3 linked regions of the Homo sapiens genome follow. The protein of the gene in region 2 binds, or shares a complex with, the protein of the main gene of each other region. Each region holds a gene or a part of one and is shown on either strand. Other genes may lie near its edges. The genes, in order: THOC1, THOC5 and THOC7.

What was found.
Region 1: the proteins of THOC5 (region 2) and THOC1 are in contact, whole or in part, in a cryo-EM structure (PDB 7APK), measured with the Homo sapiens proteins. Residues at the interface, in NP_001002877.1 of Homo sapiens: Tyr52, Arg113, Lys120, Asp124, His127, Leu128, Gln131, Asn132, Leu134, Tyr135, Glu136, Met138, His139, Thr145, Lys146, Glu149; in NP_005122.2 of Homo sapiens: Glu60, Arg145, Arg146, Leu147, Ser148, Ser150, Gln151, Lys285, Met286, Leu289, Val296, Tyr297, Phe298, Leu302, Ser304, Leu307, Leu310, Gln311, Ser313, Asp314.
Region 3: the proteins of THOC5 (region 2) and THOC7 are in contact, whole or in part, in a cryo-EM structure (PDB 7APK), measured with the Homo sapiens proteins. Residues at the interface, in NP_001002877.1 of Homo sapiens: Pro48, Asp51, Tyr52, Tyr55, Cys59, Leu62, Gln63, Met66, Ala67, Gln70, Phe95, Lys99, Leu101, Asn102, Ala105, His106, Arg108, Leu109, Gly112, Arg113, Gln115, Thr116, Ala119, Lys120, Val123, Tyr126, His127, Leu130, Leu133, Glu136; in NP_079351.2 of Homo sapiens: Ala21, Asp23, Ile27, Leu30, Val31, Phe34, Tyr50, Met53, Leu54, Leu57, Cys60, Glu61, Met64, Gly65, Thr67, Leu68, Val70, Tyr71, Asn74, Met78, Tyr81, Ile84, Tyr85, Ile88, Glu89, Ser91, Ile92, Ala95, His96, Lys98.

Annotation. Positions count from the first base shown.
Region 1 is NC_000018.10:266,237-269,985, forward strand, and holds the start of THOC1 (THO complex subunit 1), read right to left. Parts: upstream 1,812-3,749; 5' UTR 1,784-1,811; coding exon 1,730-1,783; intron 1-1,729. UniProt on the Homo sapiens protein: Component of the THO subcomplex of the TREX complex which is thought to couple mRNA transcription, processing and nuclear export, and which specifically associates with spliced mRNA and not with unspliced pre-mRNA.
Region 2 is NC_000022.11:29,505,378-29,508,905, forward strand, and holds the end of THOC5 (THO complex subunit 5), read right to left. Parts: intron 3,144-3,528; coding exon 3,080-3,143; 3' UTR 502-3,079; downstream 1-501. UniProt on the Homo sapiens protein: Component of the THO subcomplex of the TREX complex which is thought to couple mRNA transcription, processing and nuclear export, and which specifically associates with spliced mRNA and not with unspliced pre-mRNA.
Region 3 is NC_000003.12:63,857,149-63,860,897, forward strand, and holds part of THOC7 (THO complex subunit 7), read right to left. Parts: exon of another isoform or gene 3,497-3,749; intron 1-3,496. UniProt on the Homo sapiens protein: Component of the THO subcomplex of the TREX complex which is thought to couple mRNA transcription, processing and nuclear export, and which specifically associates with spliced mRNA and not with unspliced pre-mRNA.

The sequences.
Region 1 (3,749 bases), on a different chromosome or scaffold from region 2:
ACAGGAATTAGATCTATCCTAAATGTGTCCATTCCTTGCTCTGCCACTAACAGGCTGAGTAATTTGGGGCCTGTTCCTTTATCTCTTTGTGCTTCATTTTCGTCACCAGTTAAATAAGAGGGTTTTTGTAGATTTTTACTACCAGCAGCAGCTACAGTGGCATCACCTAGGAAGCTGGTAGAAATGCAAAATCTCAGGCTCCCTTCCACACTTACTGAACAAGAATCTGCATTTCACAAGAAGCTTGAGAAACACTGAACTAGATGATCTCCAATTTCATGGTCCTTTTCAGGGCTAGTATGATTTTTTTTTTTTTTTTTGAGATGGAGTCTCCCTCTGTTGCCCAGGTGTTGTGCACTGGCATGATCTTGGCTCACTGCAACCTCCGCTGTCCGGGTTCAAGCGATTCTCCTGCCTCAGCCTCCCAAGTAGATGGGATTACAGCGCCCACCACCACGCCTGGCTAATTTTCGTATTTTTAGTAGAGACGGGGCTTTGCCATGTTGGCCAGGCTGGCCTTGAACTCTTGACCTCAGGTGATCCGCCCGCCTCGGCCTCCCGAAGTACTGCATTTACAGGCGTGAGCCACTGCGCCCGGCCGCCAATATGATCTTGGATAGTCCTAACAGTTACTCTTAGCAGGCTTTCAAAGCACCAGAGATTGCAGCAAAACGCACACAAAGAAAATGATTATGATGACATACACAAAATATAATCCATTTAAAAAAAACCTCACACTGTGTGTGTGTGTATATATATATTATACGTATACGTATATATATGTATATATATATATATATAACCCTGCAAACAAGAAAACTACTTACTACAAAGGATGAATTTTTCTTTCACACAATTTTCATCCTGGCATCCCTATAACTACCAAAACACAGCCGAATATCTGAGAAATGTTGGTGCAAATGCTAGAGACGAATAGAGTCAGGCAACTTAAAAGTGTTCTTCATACTTACGTTGCTGTGACGAGCAACATAAAAAGAACAGAGTGTCTAAAGTCAGAAAAACCACTGAAGTCACAACTTTTTGGGGGGTGTCAGCTTCTACCTCATGTACCAGGAATAACCAACTTAGCCTACTTCACAGTGTTACTCTAATAGTTAAATGAGAAAGTGATCTGTCAAGTGTTTCCCAAATGCTCAAAACCACCCTTCCACATTGAGCAAGAATAAAATAGCATCTGGTTACCCTTCCCAAGGTGATCTATCTGCCTTTTCCCGCTTAGGATCTCATCGATCGCTTAGGAGTTAGACACGGTGGGTTAAGGGGTGGTGAAGAGACGGCGGGAACAAGCACTTGGTAGCTCAGAAGGCTAGGGCGGGAGCCAGGTCTTTGGACTGAAACCACTCCCACCCTCCCCCTTCAGCAGCTCCCCTTCCCCTTCTCGAGACACCTGCCCCACTAAACGAGCTGAGAGGATGGACCCAACCAGCAGTAGTCTGCAGGTGGGCACTCCAAGCGGGGAGCCGAGGCGCCCAGCACGCAGTCCGGGGACCCGCTGGAGGGTGGGCGGAGGCGGACGGCCCAGCCCACAAAGAAGAGGCGGGTAGTGCGTCTTTCCCTACCCCTCAACCTCCGACGGGGCCCGGAGCGGACGCTGAGGCGGACACACCTCTGTCTCACTTTACCCCAGGGCAAAATTCGAGTAATTTCAGGGAGAAGAGGACAAAGCATAGCGCCGGGTCAGGCCTGCACCCTCCCCTCTACAGCTCACCGTAAACCGCGTCCGCGCTTCGGGCAAACTGAAGAGCGGCGGCGTCGGAGACATCTTCTCGGCTGCGCGTGCCCGCCACTGCGCTGCGGCGCCTGCCGATGACGTCAAGCCAGGAGCAACGAGACTGCGGTCTCTCTGAGCCCGGCTAGAGTGGCCTGTGAACACCGGTCGGGCGAGCTGGCAGTTGGGAGTTTCCCTAGCGACTCAGTTCGGGTGGGCGTTGGGCGCCTGAGTCAGCCAAACAGCCTACTCGGGGTTCTTGGGTAGCCTTTGGGGTGAGGGGACTTGGGCGGCCTTGGTCTGTAAGCTCTGCGTTCCCGGGCGTGGAAGAGACTGGCCGCGCACATGCGTTTCTGTGGTTTTCCTGGTTTGGGGAAAGCGGGTAAATGGTGGCTGGTTGCGGCTAACTGGGCCGCGCTAAAAGGTAACCCAAGGCAGGTGGATTACCTGGGGAAACAGCTGGAGCAGTGGTCCTGGGCCGCCAGTCCGCGGTCATCCCGGGAGCTTAAGATGCGGAGTGGTGATAGGCTCCGGATGTATGAGCCCTGTGGCTCAAGGGCGCTGTTCTCTCTGCTCCGAAATAGAAATAATACCTGTCTCACAGAGCTGTTGAAAAGCTCCACTGAAATAATGACCGCAAGTGTGAACTGTAAAGCAATGTAAGTAGTATTTATTATTAAAAGGTCTCTACTGAAAGAAAGAGACCTAGGAGGAATGCAGTGCCCGGCGCTGATTGGAAAACGGGTGGCGCTGCGTCCTGGGCCGAGGCTTCCCTAGCGAAAACCTTGTCTCCCTCCATTTCGTCCCTTGCCTGCCTTCCCAGGAGAGACGTGGCCGATAGAAGCCGAGTGGCAGTAACTCTAAGTTGGAGTTACACGGTGGAGAAGGAAGCACTGACTCAGACTCGGGTAACTTCCTCTTATTCCCTCACACGTGTATCTTGTTCCCTTCTTCGAAGTCTGTAAATTTAAAATCCTAAGCCCCCCAACAACTGAACAGACCCCCGTGAGGCCAAGGGGACACCAGCAAAATCTTAACAACTGAGTTCCCAGTCATAACGGGATGGGAGGTCAGACGGACCTGGTTATACCCTCTCCCTTTTGTGATTTAGAGGAGATAGCTGACTGGCCATAAAGTTAAAATAGAGGCCAGGCGCGGTGGCTTACGCCTGTAATCCCAGCACTTTGGGACGCCGAAGCAGGTGGGTCACCTGAGGTCAGGAGTGGATCACCTGAGGTATGGCAAACATGGTGAAACGCTGTCTCTACTAAAAATACAAAAATTAGCCGGGCGTGGTGGCACGCACCTGTAATCCCAGCTACTCAGGAGGCCGAGGCAGGAGAATGGTTTGAACCCGGCAGGCGGAGGTTGCAGTGAGCGGAGATCGTGCCATTGCACTCCAGCCTGGGCGACAAGAGTGAAACTCTGTTTCAAAAAAAAAAACGGAGATGATAGGACTGACGGAATTGACTCCATGGCAATAAGATACCAAAGTATAAACAGGACCTAAGCCCATGCCAAGCAAGGGTTAAAAGTCATGCATCCCTACGCTTGAAAAATAAACTATGTTCTCACTATGCTTCAAGGTTTTTCTTTAGCAGCTAAACAAGCGCTGGCCTCACAGTATTAAAACAATTTGCAGTTCATCGACCACCAGACACTAACAACCCTCTCCCACCAGCCGTAACTACAGCTTTTATTGATTTCAGTTACTTTCTCCTGATAAGAAGGTCACTGACCATGGACTTGTTCTGGCCAATTTGTAGTGATTGCATGCTTACGTAACTTCCTGAAAAGATATTTTGATGTATAGGACCAAACTGTAAATACATTTAAATGTTAAGTCTCCACCCCAAAGTGAACATGGATTGTCTGTTAAACATGCATATTTGTTTAATATGCATGTGTCAAGACCACTTTCATGAATATTCATAGCCGCTCCTCTAACTTGTTGAATATGTATGTTTAGCCAACCAGTTAAGCATAAAGTTCCTACTCCAACTCCTCCTCTGAAGTGTCT
Region 2 (3,528 bases):
CCTTGCTAGGCTCAGGTTTCTTTTCTTTTTCTGAATGGGGACTCACTATATTACACAGGCTGGTCTTGAACTCCTGGGCTCAAGCAATCCTCCTGCCTCAGCCTTCTGAATGGCTTGGATTATAGGCATGAGCCACCACGCCCAGCAAGGATCAGGTTTTCATCCGTAAAATGAACGGCCCTGCTAGGGGCAGGAATTTATTACTTAGCTCTTACTCTTAAAATCCTTATCCCTGGGATACTCAGTGGTCGGCAGAGAGACCTGGAGGAATAGCTTTTATACTGGAGGTCTGCATTATCCATGGAAAATCAGTAAAAGTCCACTTAGGGGGAATATGCTTATGATGGGAACCAAGCTTAACAGCATGTTGTGGGGGGATAAAGTTTCATCAGGACAATCACAAAAAATAAAATGTGTTTCCTCTTGGAGTTAGCAAACTATATCTGCAACTATGTAATAATTCTCAAATATTTTTACATTTCTACATCTTTTTTTTTTTTTCCAAGACGGAGTCTTGCTCTGTTGTCCAGATGGTGCAGTGGCACCATCTCGGCTCAGTGCAACCTCCGCCTCGGGGATTCAAGCAATTCTCCTGCCTCAGCCTCCCGAGTGGCTGGGATTACAGGCGCGCACCACCATGCCCAGCTAATTTTTGTATTTTTAGTAGAGACGGGGTTTCACCATGTTGGCCAGGCTGGTCTTGAACTCCTGATCTCAGGTGATCCGCCCACCAGCCTCCCAAAGTACTGATATTAAAGGCGTAAGCCACTGTGCCCAGCCCATCTTATTTTTTAAAATGAAGAATGGAGTACTGATGGTGGGGTCAAGATACACTTTTTGACAAAACTGTCCAAGAATAGTCTATGCCATCCTTTACTTTGACTTGCAGGAGTATTACAAAGGATGTAATTTTATGAACATTTTAAAGGTTGTTACCTATCTTCCCAAGACTTCTCTTAATCAAATAATTATATTTTGAGGCACTTTTGTCATTACCTTAAAGACTCTACTCAGGCCGGGTGTGGTGGCTCATGCCTATAATCCTAGCACTTTGGGAGGCCGAGGTGGGAGGATCATTTGAGCCCAGGAGTTTGAGACCAGCCTGGGAAAAATAGTGGGATCCCGCCTCTACAAAAAATTTAAAAATTAGCCAGAAATGGTGGCACACACCTGTGGTCCCAGCTACTTGGGAGGCTGAGGCAGGAGGATCACTTGAACCCAGGAGAGGTTGAGGCGGCAGTGAGCTGTGTTCGTGCCACTGCACTCCAGCCTGGACAACAGAGCAAGACCCTGTCTCAATAAAAAAAAAATATTCTCCTCAAATGTTACCTGGTCTCACTGTCCTGTATCTCTGTATGTGATTGATTCTCCAACACCACTCTCGCCATCTCCATGAAATCCTGTAAGACTTAGAATTACTCTCTGTGAAGTACAGTTGATCTCTGAACAATAGTTTGGACTCTGTGGGTCTATTATATGCAGATTTCTTTTTTTAAAATTTTTTAGAGATAGGGACTCGCATTGTTTCCCAGGCTGGAGTACAGTACAGGCACGATGAATAGCTCACTGCTACCTTGAACTCCTGGACTCCAGTCATCCGCCCACCTCAGCCTTCTGAGTAACTGGGACTATTGGTGCATACCACCACACCTGGCTGATTTTTAAATTTTTTGTAGATACAGGGTCTCTCACTACGTTGCCCAGGCTGGACCTGAACTCCTGGCCTCAAGGGATCCTCCCGCCTTAGCTTTCCAAAGTACTAGGATTACAGTCATGAGTCCCTGCACAGATTTTGTTCAATAAAAATAACAGTGGTGCCTGCCTCCCCCTCCACCTCCCCCACTTTTTCTGCCTCTGCCATCCCTGAGACACCAAGACCAACCCCTCCTCTTCCTTAGACTATTCAACCCTGAGACAGTATGTGAAGACCTTTATGGTGATCCACTTCTACTTAATAGTAGATATATATTTTCTTCCTTATGGCTTTCTTATTTATTTATTTTTGAGACGGAGTCTCACTCTCGCCCAAGCCGGAGCGCAGGAGCGTGATCTTGGCTTACTGCAACCTCTGCCTCATGGGTTCAAGTAATTCTGCCTCAGCCTCCTGAGTAACTGGGACTACAGGCATGCGCCACCACGCTTGGCTAATTTCCATGTTTTTAGTAGAGACAGGGTTTCACCATGTCGGCCAGGCTGGTCTCAAACTCCTGACCTCAAGTGATCCACCCGCCTTGGCCTCCCAAAGTGCTGGGATTACAGACGTGAGCCACTGCACTCAGGCCCCCTTGTGACTTTCCTTATAACATTTTCTTTTCTCTAGTTTACTGTATTGTAAGAATACAGTGTATAAGATACAAAATATATACTGAAAATATGTACTGACTATGTTAGCAGTAAGTAACTACTAATAGCATACTACTGGTCAACAGCAGGCTATTAGTTAAGTTTTTAGGGAGTCAAAAGTTATACACGGATTTTTCAACTGTGCAGGGCAGGGGGTGTTGGTGCCCCTAACCCCTGAGTTGTTCAAGGATCAACTGAGTTTGTCTTCTGTTTGCACTGCACTGTCAGACATTTATAACATCCAACGATCAGAGACAATTTGTCCATCGGCAACCCTGACAGGACTAATGGGAAGAGCGGGTGGGGAGGGAAGAGTTTTGCTTTTTGTGCTCTGCTGCCTTTGGCTTCTCCTACCACCTCTTAACAGCAGGAACTTGGGATAATAAATACAAGATCATGAGGACCTCACCCCGCAAAGCACAAATAGGGTGTGCGTAGACAAGAGGTGAGCATCTCTCTGCAGAATTGGAATCTTTTTCCACTCTGCTTTTATTGGCTGCTGAGAAAAAGTCTCTCTACAAATGCTTTTTCACACTGTGTCACAGCTCCCACCTGCCCTTCCAGACTGCAAAGCCACCTTGCCAGGAACCACAGACAAAGGCCACTGGTCAGGTGACGCTTTTTAATTGGCTGGTGTCTTTGGAGAATATCAAGAGTCACATGTGGGCCAGAGCAGAAAGCAGAAGCCCAGTGCTCAGGGTGAGGCCTTGGGGGAAACAACGGTCTGCGCGGGAGATCAGCGATGGCTGAAGAATCCCTGAGGATGGTTGTATTTAAATGGCTTCATCCTGCTAGGACCCCTAGAGAAATAGGAGAACGGAGTTGTTAATAACACACCTTCTAGGCTGATAAAATAAATTATGGTTCATTCACACAAGGGAAAAAGAAGAGGCAGAGTTACATGACACAGAATGTTGTTGAGAAAAGCATACGGCAGAACAACATATAAGGTGCGATACTATTTTTGTAAAAATGTCTTTTTGTGCTTGCAAATGAGTGAACACAAACTTGGAAAGGCCCTCACTGACAGTGGCACTTCGGGGACATAGCTTTAGGCACCCTCACTTTTTAGGATTGTTCCTTTTTTTATTTTTTGAGACGGAGTCTCTGTGTCGCCCAGGCTGGAGTGCAGTGGCGTGATCTCGGCTCACTGCAACCCCTGCTTCCCGGGTTCAAAGGATTTTT
Region 3 (3,749 bases), on a different chromosome or scaffold from region 2:
TTTTAGAGGCATTAAAAATCATTCTGGGAGAGGAATTATTACGGAAGGTAAAGAGGGGAAGGTTTTCATTTTTCATATTGTGCATTTCTTCTTGAATTTACTGACATGTAGTACTTTTTTTATGAAGTAGTAACAGTGGTTAACTGGGTGGTAAACTTATTTATCATTCTCAGGTACTTCATTTTCTCTGTATTAAAAATTCTACTCCGTTACTGAATAAAGCTATGATATGTTAACAACAACAAAGAAAACTGGCTTGATTTGACCTACTTTAAATGAACAAGAAGAGAGACTAAGGCCATGTAAAAAAAATGTTCATGCAGATTCCTGTAAGATTTATCGTTAGACCACCACAGCTCATGTTATTAAGATGAATCACACATATTAGCCCATTGTGTTACATTCCTTATGGTAAAATAACACCTGGTCCCTCCTTTCAAAAAGCTCAAAGCCATTAAAACAATTTTTAAGGTCAACAATATTAAGGAGACACATAAAAGGTGGGTGGAAGGAACAATAAGATGGTTTGATTCCTCCATGTAGATATTAACCTCTCCTAAGATACTTCTGACTGGTCTACATAAATTGCTGATGCCAAGGTAAATTACGTGCACCAAAATTAAATTTAAAATTTTAAAAGGAAAATAAATGCAAAACATCATGTTGAGGTCCTTTGTCTTTTCTCTCTATTTAAATGTTTAGAGTAGTATAGTGCTAATAAAGTCAAGGTGAAATGTCCATCTTGCTTTGAAAAACCAATTATCTTGGCTAAAGAAACATCATTTCATAGTTGAACTGCAGCAGTTATCCCTGTGTTGGGGCCACAGAAGATGGAAGAAAGTGGGCAAATGCAATGGCACTAATGAAAAAAAAACCCAAAAACAAAAGAACCCTGTGCCCACAAATGTCTAATTAACATTGGATCAGCAATTGAAATAGGAATAACAGCAGCAGCAAACACTTGCACAGCATTTATACCACCCTAGTTGGTGACCACACAACCCATTTGTTTCTTTTCACTCTGAAAAGTGTCCTGGTTTACACAATAAATTAAATGGTCACTCAACTTCAAAGTGCTTTACATATATTATCATGTTTCATCCTTGAAACAACTCTACAAAGTGTGTACTATTATCTTCCTTTCACAGATGAGTTACTACTCACCTCTGCATTCACAGAAAAATATATACAATTACATTATTAGAAAGTCATAATGCAGCTCCATTATTCTGTCATATTATTCGTAGGCATATTAAAAACCATTATTTCACATTGCAACAAGTACATATTCATGCATTACATTTTTCTAAGTTAAAAAAAAAAGCTACCGTCAAAACCAGCAAGCTTTATTAAATAGAATGTAGAGCCACATTCCACCCCAACCCCTTTCTCCATCTCTCATCTGTTGCTCTGGCATATCAATATATCACCTAATGTTCTCTGTAGTGCAAAAAGTGCTTCTGAAATGATTTCTATCAGGGTACTAACAATATTTAGCATCCTTTAAATTAACACATACAAAATACAGTTAACATAGTTTAAATTAACAGTGACAACATCCACACTGTTTTTCAGCTAGCCAGACTGCTAGAGTTGGCAACAAGGGAAGGAGAGAAAATGGCTTTGTCACAAACTACCTGTGTGACTGCAAGTCACTAACTTCCAAAGACCTCTACTTTTTCACTTATAACATGACAGTAGTGGTGAAAATATCCAGTCTAGTAGCTATAGCTACTCTAAAGCAGGGCAGTTCCTCAAACTGAGTGCAGGAAATAAAGGGCTGCTTCTTCAAGAGCTCCCAGTCCAACTGGATACGCAGACCCAGAGGAATGGATTACATGAAGGGACAGTGATACAGGCACATCAAATTTGTAAAAGACATTGGCTCTTATGTAAGCTCCATGGACAGGTACTGGTACTCCTCCAAGAGCTTTCCAGGAGGATGAATGAGATATCAAGAGCATCCACTTCTATCTTCCACACTAACATCGCTCTAATCCAAGCCCACATTTCTCTCATCTGGAATATTTTGCATTGGACTCCCTGTTTCCATTCTTGCCTTCCTAGAATCCATTTTTTATGCAACTCAGAATGATCTAAAAGATGAATTGGATCACTAACTCTCCTGCTTACAATCCTCCTATCATTTCTAAATGCCCACAAAGGACAATTCAGTCTCCTTTCCAAAGCCTGCAAGGCTCCTCCTGAGCTCCCTTTTACCTCCTTTTGCATCGTACTCCTCTTGGCCCACCTGGATGCAGTCCTGTCCCTAGATCCAGCCCAGTGGCTTTCCTTATTTCCTCTAAAGGGTGCAGAGCTTGTTTTCACCTCGGGCCTTTGCACTAGTTGTTGTCTCTATCTGGAATACTTTCCTGGGCTCTTCATGTGGTTGAACCTGTCAGGTATCACTGCCCTCCCCCATTACTCTCTGTCCTCATTCCATCAAGTTCATTCTCAGAACTTAATTACATTCCTTTTCAGAAATTATCTTATTTACTTATTTGATTGCACACTATGGCTTCTTTCCCCAAAGCAGGGGCCAGGGCCCTCCTCTGTCTAGTTCACTGCAAAGTAGCCAGGACCTCGCATTGTGCCTAGAAGGTATGCAATAAATACTTGTTGACGGATCACACATACCACTCATTTCAGCTTGATTTTTTCAAAAGCTCAGCTGACAAAAACCATGTTTATAGAGGATTGTCTGAAGAAGTTGTAGTTTGTCTTTCCTCTATGGTCTAGATATTCAATCAAAAAACCCTGATTTGAATCAAGCCAGATCAGCAGAGCTACCCACTACCCACCTAAACCACATTGTCCATTGATTTTATTTATTTATTTTTAGACAGGGTCTAGCACTGTTGACAGGCTGGAGTGCAGTGGTGCAATCATGGCTCGTTGCAACCTCAAACTCCTGGGCTCAAGTGATCCTCCTGCCTCAGCCTCCTGAGTAGCTGGGACTACCTACAGGTGTGTTCCACTCCACCTGGCTAATTTAAGAAAATTTTTAGTAGAGATGAGTAGCTGAGACTACAGGTGCACACCACCACACACGCCTGGCTAATTTGAAAAATTCTGTAGTATAGATCATGTCTTGCTGTGTTGCTTAGGATGGTCGCAAACTCCTGGGCTCACGTGATCCTCCTGCCTTAGCATCCCAAAGTGCTAAGATTGATTACAGGTGTGAGCTACCACACCCAGCCTCTACTGGCTTTAGAATGTCTTTCTAAATTGTGATTTAGCCTTCTTTTACCTAGCAAGGGATGTGCTACAAAACAGCTCTATGATCTTCAGTGCTGAAAAGAGGTTAAGGATATGACACTGGCTTTCATTTATAAAGACCTCAATGATAAACTTTTCCTCTAGTTCAAATCAGAAAAAAAAAGTGCTTTTCCTGGGCATCTAAGATTGCCTTCTCTCATGAACACTAGATCACAGAGCAGACGAGGTCCTGCCTCTCAGAATGGCCTACTGGAGAAACAGGTCACTTACAGCTTGGTTAATTAATGTACTAGACTTTATCCTCCTGCATTTTGAGGATCACCCCACTTCTGACTTCCCTTTATTTTTCCTAATCTCAATGTTCTTTTTGTCTTGTTTTCTAATCCGTTTAATTTTTATATTTTCTCATTACAGTGAACTGCCTTAAATGTTTTCTAGCATAAGGCATATAAATAACGTATTAAGGGTGACAGCAGCAATATGCATAAAATAATATGGCTAGTAGGCAGAAGGTCAACTACTTCTAGGAA